Homo sapiens: one gene and its partner. The protein of the gene in region 2 interacts with the protein of the main gene of each other region in a biochemical or structural test. Each region holds a gene or a part of one and is shown on either strand. Other genes may lie near its edges.

The links. The genes of interacting proteins can lie anywhere in the genome.
Region 1: the proteins of PSMC3IP (region 2) and MND1 form a complex in vitro, tested with the Homo sapiens proteins (one study listed by IntAct).

Annotation. Positions count from the first base shown.
Region 1 is NC_000004.12:153,339,833-153,347,689, reverse strand, and holds the start of MND1 (meiotic nuclear division protein 1 homolog), read right to left. Parts: upstream 3,003-7,857; 5' UTR 2,953-3,002; coding exon 2,950-2,952; intron 1-2,949. UniProt on the Homo sapiens protein: Required for proper homologous chromosome pairing and efficient cross-over and intragenic recombination during meiosis.
Region 2 is NC_000017.11:42,571,802-42,574,752, forward strand, and holds the end of PSMC3IP (homologous-pairing protein 2 homolog), read right to left. Parts: intron 2,534-2,951; exon of another isoform or gene 2,515-2,533; intron 2,410-2,514; coding exon 2,298-2,409; exon of another isoform or gene 2,018-2,297; intron 1,823-2,017; coding exon 1,677-1,822; intron 1,564-1,676; coding exon 1,510-1,563; intron 1,403-1,509; exon of another isoform or gene 1,366-1,402; coding exon 1,306-1,365; exon of another isoform or gene 1,224-1,305; coding exon 1,167-1,223; 3' UTR 509-1,166; downstream 1-508. UniProt on the Homo sapiens protein: Plays an important role in meiotic recombination. Stimulates DMC1-mediated strand exchange required for pairing homologous chromosomes during meiosis.

The DNA.
Region 1 (7,857 bases), on a different chromosome or scaffold from region 2:
CCTCCAGAACTTCCCTGAGTTCACAGGCTAAGCATGTATTCCCAGAACACACCTTCATCAAATCACTCACTACATTGAAAAGATGTTTACTTGTCCGTATCAGCACACTGAAAAACTTCTTCAGAACATGAACTGCCTTTGCCTTTCCAGGGCTTAGTGCCAAGTTAGACAAGGGAGACATAAAGCTCTTAATTTTAGGACCATGTATCTAAAGCCCCCAACTCTAAAATTTGAGGCTGCTCAGGCTCCTAAGCCCCCCAACACCTACCATACTCCCATAGATATAACAGGTGAATTAATCATAGTGAATTCAGTGACATCATGTATTGCCTGGCTTGAAGAGACAAATCAGAGAAATCTCAGTTAGGCAAACTCCAGGAACCCATACAGATCTGCTCACTAAACCTAGGGCTGAGAGCTAGGGTCCAGGACTGCTCTATTTGCCTCCCTTCATTCTCACCTCTGCAGTATCTGACAAATCAAGCATGAAATTCATAACAGTTAGAAGACTCCTTCAACATATTTTTCTAGTCCAATAGGTCCTAAACTGCCATACATTAGAATCACCTCAGGAGTTTTTAAAAAATACCGATGCCCAGGCTCATCTCTAATGAATGGAATCAAAATCTCTGGAATGGGACCTGGGCAACATATTTTTTAAATCCTCCAACTTATTTTAAAAATCCTCTCCAACATATTTTTTAATTGTGCCCCAGGGTTGAGAACCCTACTTTTGTCAGCCCAGAATCTGAAGGCCATGTCAAGGGCGCTGCGGGGCAATGGGAATCCCTTTAGAATTTCAGTGTGTCGCTGCACTAGCAGAAAGCAGATCCTGAAGTGTTAGGAAAGACTCCTAACATTTTGATATTCGAAACAGCTCCTTGCACTCCACAAGAATCTGCCCCCCAGAGGCAGGCAATGAGGAGAATCTAGCGTCCTGGGGTACCCAGTTTTAGGAAAGCTCTCAACACTCAGCTCAGCAGCTATGAAAGTTACTCAAGAAATGTGGATGAGCTGTATCATCCATTTACCTTGTTTTCAGGCTGATTTATTCATCAGTCTCTTTCATGACTAGAAATAATTTCTATTATTAACCACAGTAGGAGTATCATAGCCAGAATTAAAATAACTAATGTAAAAAGATGCCATATTAATACTCATATTTAGAAACTTCTCAAAAAAATCAATGAGGATTTATCTAATATTTAATTAAGACTAGGAAAAACCTGATAGTATAAGTTAGAGATGCATTCAAATTAGTAAGTCAGGAGACTCAAAACCTGACTCAAGGACTATGAAGCTTTCTGGAAGTATTTTAAACCACTTAAAAAATCATGTTATCTGAGGAACCTTCTCAGTTAGAAGTTATGGAATTCCTACAGCCAGCCCTACTAATCAATTACGATAAAATTATGAAGAATTATTAAGTAGACATCACTGCTGCTCTCAGAGTTCAGCACTGCACTTCTCCAATTTCAAAAATTGCCTGAACTCATTAACTATTTACTTAGGATGCCTAACCAAATGAAAACAGCTATTAATTCATAATCAATCAAAAGTTTACCTTTGACCAACACTAAATTTATTTCTCGATCACATATTAAAAAATAGGAAGTCCACATCTTATCAAAAGCTTTAATTTTTTAAAAGGATTCTCTATTATCGGAGGTAAGCTTCTAAAGAGTTAACACATTTAGTATTAGCAGGTGATTCATGTGTAGAGAGATAGATTAGGTAAAAGGACAACGCGCGTTTGAGCTGCACAGTTCTCCAAGTCAGTTATACGAGGCCAGCAACTCTGCAGAGAAAAATTGTAACACAGAAGGGCACTGCTAACAGATTTGTTTTAACTGTAGTCCTGTTTGGCTCCTTAGAGCACTTCACGCCCAGGTGGCTGGGTTGTTAGTTTAACCACAAAGAAGCCGTTATCATTTATAACTACATCTGGACAAATATCTTCAAATAAATACCATACAACTGGATCCTGGTGTCCCACCCTGCCCCCCTTAGCTCGGCAACATTTAACGGCCACGTAAGTAAATGAAGATATTAAAATCTTAGATCCATTTAACCAGATGTTGATTCTTCGCCAACTGAAGCAGAAAAAACGGCATGAAACTTTGAAGGTTTATGAAAATGATTTGATGAGCAGAAAGACGTTAAGCTCACAAAGCCGATCTTACCAGGACTTAACTGATCATGACCCACGAGGAAGCCTAATTCAGTGCAGAGCGTCCTTAAAAAAGCAACAGCGCCCTACACAACCAGCAGCACCCGGCACAAGAGCAGCGACTCCTGCCCTTTGGCAGAAACCGGGGCGTTTTCACAGAAATCGACTAATTGGCACACAGTGAAGATCCATTAGGTAACTCGAAACTGAGCAGTTCTGGAATGTGCTCTACATATTACAATACAGAAAACCACTCAATGGTGACAAACCAGGAGTGCGCTTTGGGATCAAGACGTTCGCTCCCCGCAGTCCCTCCCGCCCACTTGCGCTTTCTCTCCCCGTTCTTAATGGGGGGGGCTACACCACGCGGGGCCGAAGCTGGAGGCGTAGGGAGCCCAGGTTCTCAAGGGCCCCGTGGTCTTTTAGATAAATCCAGGTTGGTGAAGTTCTCGGGTCACGTTCGCGAACGCTTCCCGCGTTCTAACCTAACCCGCCCGAACGGGCCCTGGGGACAGACGCGGGGTGCAGCCGGCGGGGAGGCCGCGGATGCCCCCGCGCCTCGGGACTCCGGACAGGAGCGGCGGGGAACGCCGCAGAGTGCGGAGTGGCTGCGGCGGGGCCGGGCTGGGCCCCTACACGGTGAGGCCGAGAGCCGGGCGACCGCTCCCGCGGCCCGGAATGGCGGTCAACGCCAGGCCGGGATCCACATGCAGCCGAGGGGCGGCGAAGCCCACACACTAGGGAGGAAGAAGACGCGGGACCGTAGCCTCAGTCCTTACCATGGCGCGGGCGCAGGGGCTTCCGCTGGCCGGGCCCGCGCTTGGGGAGAGGGGCGGGACAGGCCAGGACGCGTTTGATTTTGGCGCCGACTACGCCGCGGGGGCGGAGCAGCGAGACGGTGGAGGTGGGGGAAAGAGGCCGGTCCTCGCCCGCGCGGCGCGCAGCGACCCCTAGCGACCCATCCGAGCCGCCGGCGGGGGAAGGGGCGCGGGCCTGGGGCCGGGGCTGTGGGGAGCGTGTCCGCGTCTCAGTGGACGGGTTGCAGAGCTGCCTCCGTCTCCTCGGTATTCTGTGAATGTGACCTTTTTTTTTTTTAAGGACATCTTGCCTTTGCTTTTACTGCGTTTTCTTGGCGCCGCAGAAATATGGCCTAAGTTTGGATGTAAAAAATAGAGGCGTTTAGGCTGTTGAGGAAGGAAACGCTGCCTCCATCCTTCCGGACTTGTCCTGTCTGGGGCGGACTGGATTCCTTTCTCGTCTTCTAATCTGACCCCTCATCTTCTCCCGAGCCGCTACCCACTGCTTTCCAGCTTTTCAAATCCTGTGTATGTCTGTTTGTTTTTCCCTTAGGTTTTAAAAAAGAAGGAAACAACGGAATGAATTTCAAATCAACATGGTCAAAAATACGCTACTTCATGGCTTGAGAATAGATCCAGATTCATAGCAAAAGCTCAGGCCCCTGAAAGTGCTGAAAAATTTTAACTCAGAATTCAATTATTTTGAAAATTATTCTATGGTGTTTTGAACCATTTTTAGGTGTAAGAAGTACGGTTGGGCGCTGTGGCTCACACCTGTAATCCCAGCAATTTGGGAGGCCGAGGCGGGCAAATCACTTGAGGTAGGGAGTTTGAGACCAGCCTGGCCAACATGGTGAAATCCCATCTCTAATAAAAATACAAAAATTAGCCAGGCGTGGTGGCGGACGCCTGTACAATCCCAGCTACTCGGGAGGCTGAGGCAGGAGAATCGCTTGGACCCAGGAGGCAGAGGTTGCAGTGAGCCAAGACCCCGCCACTGCACTCCAGCCTGGGCGACAGAGTGAGACTCTGTAACACACACACACGCACGCACACACACACACACACACACACACAGTGTAGTAAGTCTTGTAGATGCTATAAGAGTAGCATCTAAAGTTGGAATTTATGTCCCCTGTTGCTTCTGCTGGAGGCAGAGGAAGGGGTACATTGAATTGCAGAGTTCCATTAATTTGGTTTTTCCTGTAAGAGTTATACCATGTAACTGATGGTACATAAGGTAATTTTAAAATGATAAATGAGTACATTAAGTAACTACAGTAGTGGTATATACATTTGTGCTACTTGGGGAAAGCCTTGTCTTAATTGGCTCTCAGGCTTGTTGCAGGTGAGTGGTGACTATCTGAGGCCAGTGGCGCTGTGGCAGAAAAATTTACCAAGGCAGTTGTAAGTAAAGAAAGGCAGAATCATTAGAGAAAGCATGAAAATACGTTGCAAGGGAGCAATGGGCAGAATCAGCAGAAAAGGAGCTGACTGCAAGGAAACAAAGGCTTGCTGGGGATTTTATAGAATAGTGCTTATGCTGTATACGGAAGAGGGCTTTGTGCAGTACTGATGTTACAGTCCCAAGTTTTCCTCCGCCCCTGCCTCTAAAGCGACACAGTGCAAAAGCCTGCCCTGGGACAGTAACAAATTGACCCAAACAGGTCTTCTTTTGGGAAAAATGAGTGCTAAATGGATATAAAAAAGGGTCACTTAAGCTGCATCTGTATCCTAAGTGTCACTGAGAGCTGCTGTGACAGTTCTCTGAGGTTCCTGTTGTGCATTGCAGTCTTGATCAACCAGACCTGGGAATCACCGCCACCTAGGAAAGAAGACACATTCTACTGCCTCTGGTTCCTTTGCATTTTCAGTACAAATACCTTAAACTTCAGATAACCTTCTGATGCCCCTTCCTTGACATTCTGAAAAGCATGACCTATAGGAGCAGCTTATTTATTTATTTAGAGTTGGGGTTTCGCTCTTTTGCCCAGCCTGGAGTGAAGTGGCATGATTTTGGCTCACTGCAACCTCCAACCCCTAGGTTCAAGCGATTCTCTTGCCTCAGCCTCCTGAGTAGCTGGGATTATAGGCGCCCACCACCACCCCCGGCTAATCTTTGTATTTTTAGTAGAGATGGGGTTTTACCATGTTGGCCAGGCTGGTCTCGATCTCCCAGTCTCAGGCGACCCATCCGCCTTGGCCTCCTAAAGTGCTAGGATTACAGGCGTGAGCCACCGTGCCTGGCAGGAGGAGCTTATAAAGGAAATAGGAAAACAAAGTCAAGTCACTTGGAAGAGACTGAGGAAAAAGTCTGCAATGTAGGAAAAGAAGTAGGAGAATGCAAAACCAAGAGAGGAGAAAATTTTAAAAGAAAAACTTTAGACAAATGAGTTCCTCTCGGCAACGTGGCCAGAGAGGTTTTTTGTTGTTGTTGTTTTGTTTTTTTGAGACAGGGTTTCACTCTGTCACCCAGGCTGGAGTGCAGTGGCACAATCATGGTTCACTGCAATCTAGAACTCCAGGGCTCGAGGGATTCTCCTGCCTTGCCCTCCCAAGTAGTTGGGACTACAGATGTGCATAACTATGCCTGGCTAATTTTTTAAAAATTTTCCATAGAGATGGTGTCTCCCTATGTTGCCTAGGCTGGTCTAGAACGCCTGGATTCAAGCAATCTTCCTGCCTTAGCCTCCCAAAGTATTGGGATTACAGGTGTGAGTCATGCCTAGCCAACAGGAAGTTTTTATAGACAGAAAAGGGAAGTGAGTTACAGAAATAGCTTGACTGATTACAGCTCCTTGTTTGAATTATTTGGCCACTGTCGGCAGCCTGTGGGCTGAAGCTCAGCTACTTGTGATTGGCTGAGAATTGGGGGTTTGTTACACACCATGCTTGGTTTTCAGTTTGTGTACCACGTTAGGTTGCAGTTCCTTACAATTCCTTAGGTAGGAACTCAAAGTGTGGAGACAGCTTCAAGCCAATGGCCGCCTGCTTATTTAACAAAATTTTAAGGAAGAAATAGTAAACATTATCAACCTGTCAGTCACAACACAGCTTCTGAGTTAGAAATGACAATGCAATCATGTCATTTGGGTAGGGCGTCATTCTCAATGGGATGACATCAAAATGGGTTCCTGGGAGACAAAAAGATCTTAGATGGTTTGTGCTCCAGTGGTTTGTGGCTCTCAGTACATAAACAGATGTACAGTATATCTCTGGTATTAAAATTTCATGGGACTGGGGATGGCATTGTGAACAGGGAAAAAACATCTAAAAAGGTTCTTTATGGGAATGGTAATGAGAAAAAAGGTTGAGAAAGACTGATGTCTAGTGAATATATAATTTATCATCCGAACTGAGACACTTCTGAGAACAGAAGGGAATGCTATTCCTATTTATGCTAGGACACAGGCATAAAGAGGATTGTCCCCATCAGCTATGTGATAACATGGAACTTCCATTATACTTTATTAACCCTTCTCCATGGCTCTTTAATTTTCCCTGTTTTATAGTTATTCTTTTAATCTTTCCATCTGGAATGTAAACTCCTTAAGAACAGGCACAGTAACATACTCTTTATAACGGTGCCTCATCAGTAATTTCTTCTTGAGAAATTCTGTGGTCTTGCCATATCAGACTATTTGTTATTCCCTGAACAACTCATGTTCTGGTGCCCTCTTTTAGCACAAGCCTGGGGGGAGTCTGAGTTCCAGGGTGACTCCAGGTGCCTGTGGGTCTACACTCACCCAGCAAGTATCCCTATGGCCAAGAGAGTATAACATTAAGTAGCAAATAAAAAACACTGTGACTGGTGGAGACACCACAGAAGAAAGGAAAATGTCTTTTTCATACTTCTTGAACAAGGGGCCTTGCATTTTCATTTTGCACCAGGCTCTGTAATTATGTAGCTAGCTCTATATGTATTCAGTTATTTGTTTCATCCCAGTAAAATGAAAGTCTGTGAGAAGAGGAGCTTTTTTTGTTTACTGCTATTCCCTAGTGAGACTAGCATAGTACCTGAACATTCTACACTCAGTAAATATTTGCTAATGAATACAGCAGTTTATGGTACTGTAAGTATCTGGTCTGTTTCTCCAAGCAGGCTGTAAGCTCTGTGAGGGTACAGGCTTCAGTATTCATCCCGGTATCCCGTCCACCTAGCCAAAAGGCTGGTGGACCAAGGGTGCTTAGACGTTTGTTTGGTCAGTGACTTTAACAGTGAAAAACAGACAGAAGAGTGAGTAGAACATCAAATGTCCACTTGCCCTTCCAGTCTCCTTAGGCAAAACTGAACTCGTTCTCTCCTCTGGAAAGGGATGCATCTGGCTTCATGTGAAATGTGCTCCTGGAGGACAATCTCAGATATGCTGAACTATGCAAGTGGCTTATGGAGGGACCCACCCTCTCTCTGATTCTGAAAACCTCCAAGGAGCCCATGATGGTGGCCTGCTTGGGTAAAAGAAAAAACAAATGAAGAATGGAAGTAGAATTCAATAATATTAATATTTACAGTTCATCGTCAGCAGTGTCACATTTGGTCTTTTTTTAAAGAGACAGTCTGTTGACTATGTTGCCCAGACTGGTCTTAAACTTCTGGGCTCAAGTGATCCTCCCACCTCAGCCTCCCAAGCAGCTGTGACTCCAGGCGCTGCCGCCATGCCTAGCTCCATGTTAGGTCTTCCTAATTTCTGTTGTTTCATCTCTCCTTCCAAGACTGACTCATGTAACCTCTTCCAGAGTTTCCATCTATGCTGGATTTTTTTTAACCCTCAAGAAAACAAAACGAATTTTTATTGTGTTCCGTCATTGTTCACAATCACGCCTGTAATCCCAGCGCTTTGGAAGCCCAGGCAGGAGATTGCTTGAGCCCAGGAGTTCAGACCATCCTGG
Region 2 (2,951 bases):
TTATTATATTGACGATAAAACTCAAACCTACCCAGCCTTCCCCCCACTCCATGGAAGTCCTTGGGATGGGCGTCTGCTCTGGACACCCCAAAGAGCTCCTGCCCTCTCAGCCCTTTATTCAAGCCTCAGATTTCTGCTCATGATCTACATAGATTTGGAAACTGTTTTCCTCTGTTTTGGTCTCTTGGGCAACATTTTTGGCCCAAGTTTGGGCAACATTTGGCCCAAGTTTGGGCATTTTGGCAGTAGCTGTATGGGAGAAAAAGAGTAAGAGGAAATATTCCCACAGCCATGAAGGGTGAAAGGGCACCTTGTGCCTAGACTAGGGCTGCCTGGTCAGTCCCAGGTGAGGCCAAGGGCTTTCTGGCCATCTCAGGGAGGGGCCACCAGGTTCCTCCCCTCACCCCATATTCCATCACCTTCCTCCTCTGCTCTGGGTGGTAAGGGAAGCCCTCCCGGTTCCCACAGGCTATGATGCTGCATGGCAGAGGCAGGTATAACACAGCACTACATATTGGAAATTTTTTATTTTTCTAAATACCAATGCAGTTTTGCTACGGTTACAATTTTGAAATATTAACTGAGCCTCAAAATCACCCTTTCTGTCAAGCATATCTTGGCCTCTCCCATGTCTCAGTGTTGCCTGCATTTCTCCCAGGACTTGGGGGTGGGGTGAAAAGCGTACAAAAGATACTTAAAAGGGCTCCTGGGGTACACAAGCCCAGCAGGTCCTGAGTGAAGCCGTGGGCCCTCCAAATGCTCGTTTTATAGCAACCTCTCTCTACCCTAGTTCTCCAAATTCACTTCTGCCTTCCTCAGGTTTGATATCTGGCAGGTTTGACTATCCAGAGGAAATTAAATATTTTTATATAAAATTAAATTATAATAAATATTGCCAAATGCTTTCCTTTAGCATTGTTCCAAGTCTAAATGTTAACCTCAAGCTACTGCAATTTAGACAATGAAATGGGCTGGGTCTACCCCCAGCCACCAGCCCTCATCCTCTCTACCCAGTGCTCTGGTTTATGCTTGTCTCCTGACTGCTCTGCTTAAAGGTGAAAGTAGCAGGAACAACAACAAAAGCCAACCAAAAACAAGGTAGCCAGTGCAAGACATCTCACTCTTCTGACATCCTGCAGTCCCCACCAGTCCTGACCGTGGGCCCCTCAGGGGTCTGGGAGTGTGACGTTGTAATCTTCATCCGTCTCTATCCCAACTTCCTCCTGTGAGACAGGGAGACAAGTGAATGAGATGTCACCAGGATAAGACCACAGGGAAGCAAAGAAGGAAGAGAGCTCCACTTACAAAGAACTGCTTCTTGCTCTTGGGGTATCCTTCAAGTATTGCATCAGACAGCTCTGTAGCCTGACAAGAAATAAAACCACCCGTTTTCAGATGGGCAGCACTGGGCACTGCCTGTCAGTTTATGATATTGTGTAGCGGCTGATCTGGTGCCTGCCATTTTCAAAGGCACCTCCAGGGCCTGTCTCGGAGCTCCCACACACTTACCATCCTCTTCCTCTTCCTCCACTCCTTACAGTACTTCTGCCTCTCTCTGTACACCTAGAAGGAAAAAGCAAGTTCCTCTAACTCCTCAGAACCACAGCAGCCCTCTGGGGCTCAGCCCTGATGTTCACTCTGGACCTGCACAGCGGTCCTACAGCCTTCCAGCTCACCTGCTCTTTCTCTTCTGGAGTCACATGATTGGTAGCTGCTTTAATGTTCTTCAATCTCTCTCTGTAGCCAGCGCATTCCTTCTTTAACTCCTGGATTTCTTTCTGCATCTCTGGTGTGGTCAGGGCACTAGATAATTCCTTGAGCTCTGAAACCACATCCGCCTGGGGTCACTTGCTACCCCTGAGGAAGGAGTTCTGTCTTTCCCAGTGGGTGCTCCCTGAGGTGTTCCACCTTGCTCTGGATCTATCATCTCACATGGAAACTAAGCCATACAGGATTATTTATTCTTCTAATTTTCTTTCCTCCTCCATCTACAAGTGGCGTGGGTGTGAGGTTGAACACTTACTTAGGCGTAGCCAGTTAAAGAAGCAGGAATAAAGGGAAACGTGGGGACAGTGTACTGATAATCGTGGCAGGGAGAACAAATGCGTATCTTGTCCATTTGTTGGTACACAAAAGCCGTTAGTTATCCTACATTTCTTTTTATGCCTAAGGGAGCCCAGCAAAGGGGTCTTAGCTGCAACAAGATGCTGCAGTCATTGAACCATTCATTTAGTAATTCCTGACCTCTAGAATGAACCTAAGCCTATGGGCACTTTGGAGGGGCTACCCAGTCCTACCAGCCTCCATGTAGCGGCAGCTCTGCTGCAAGCTCTGCACCTTAGCAGTGAGGGCCACGATTTTGCCATCTAGGACTTGAAGGTCAGCATCACTCACCATGTCAAACTGGTCCTGCCAGACAAAGAGGGAAAATACAAGTGAACTGTTGTGAGGCACAAAGATGGGAACACACACCTGGGAAGGCACCATTTGGATATGCTCAGGAACCAGCCACACCCCAAAGTCTCCAGAGGGTCTGCAGAAATAGTGGGAGAGTACTTTTGAGAAATTGTTTTCAGTTAAGGAGCGGCCCCACTAAAAAGGTAGGAAAGAAAAGCTGAAATCTAATGCTTGTCCTTAAGCTACTAGGTTGACAGGATACTGATTAGGACAGAAATCTTCCCATTTAGTGATAAAACCACTACCTGGGCTGAAGCAGTTAAGTAACATTGTTCCCACGGTGGGGAAACCTAGATCATGGGTTTCCATAATAGATAGAAACTGGACAGGTGAAGAAGCATGATGGATGGGATGGATGGACTTCTTTTCTTCTTCCTTCCTGTCCTTTCTTCCCATCCTTCTTTCCACCTTCCTCTCTCCCTCCTTCCTTCCTTCCTTTTTCCTCCCTCCCTCCCTCCTTCCCCCTCCCTTTCCCTCTCTCTTTCTCTCTCTTT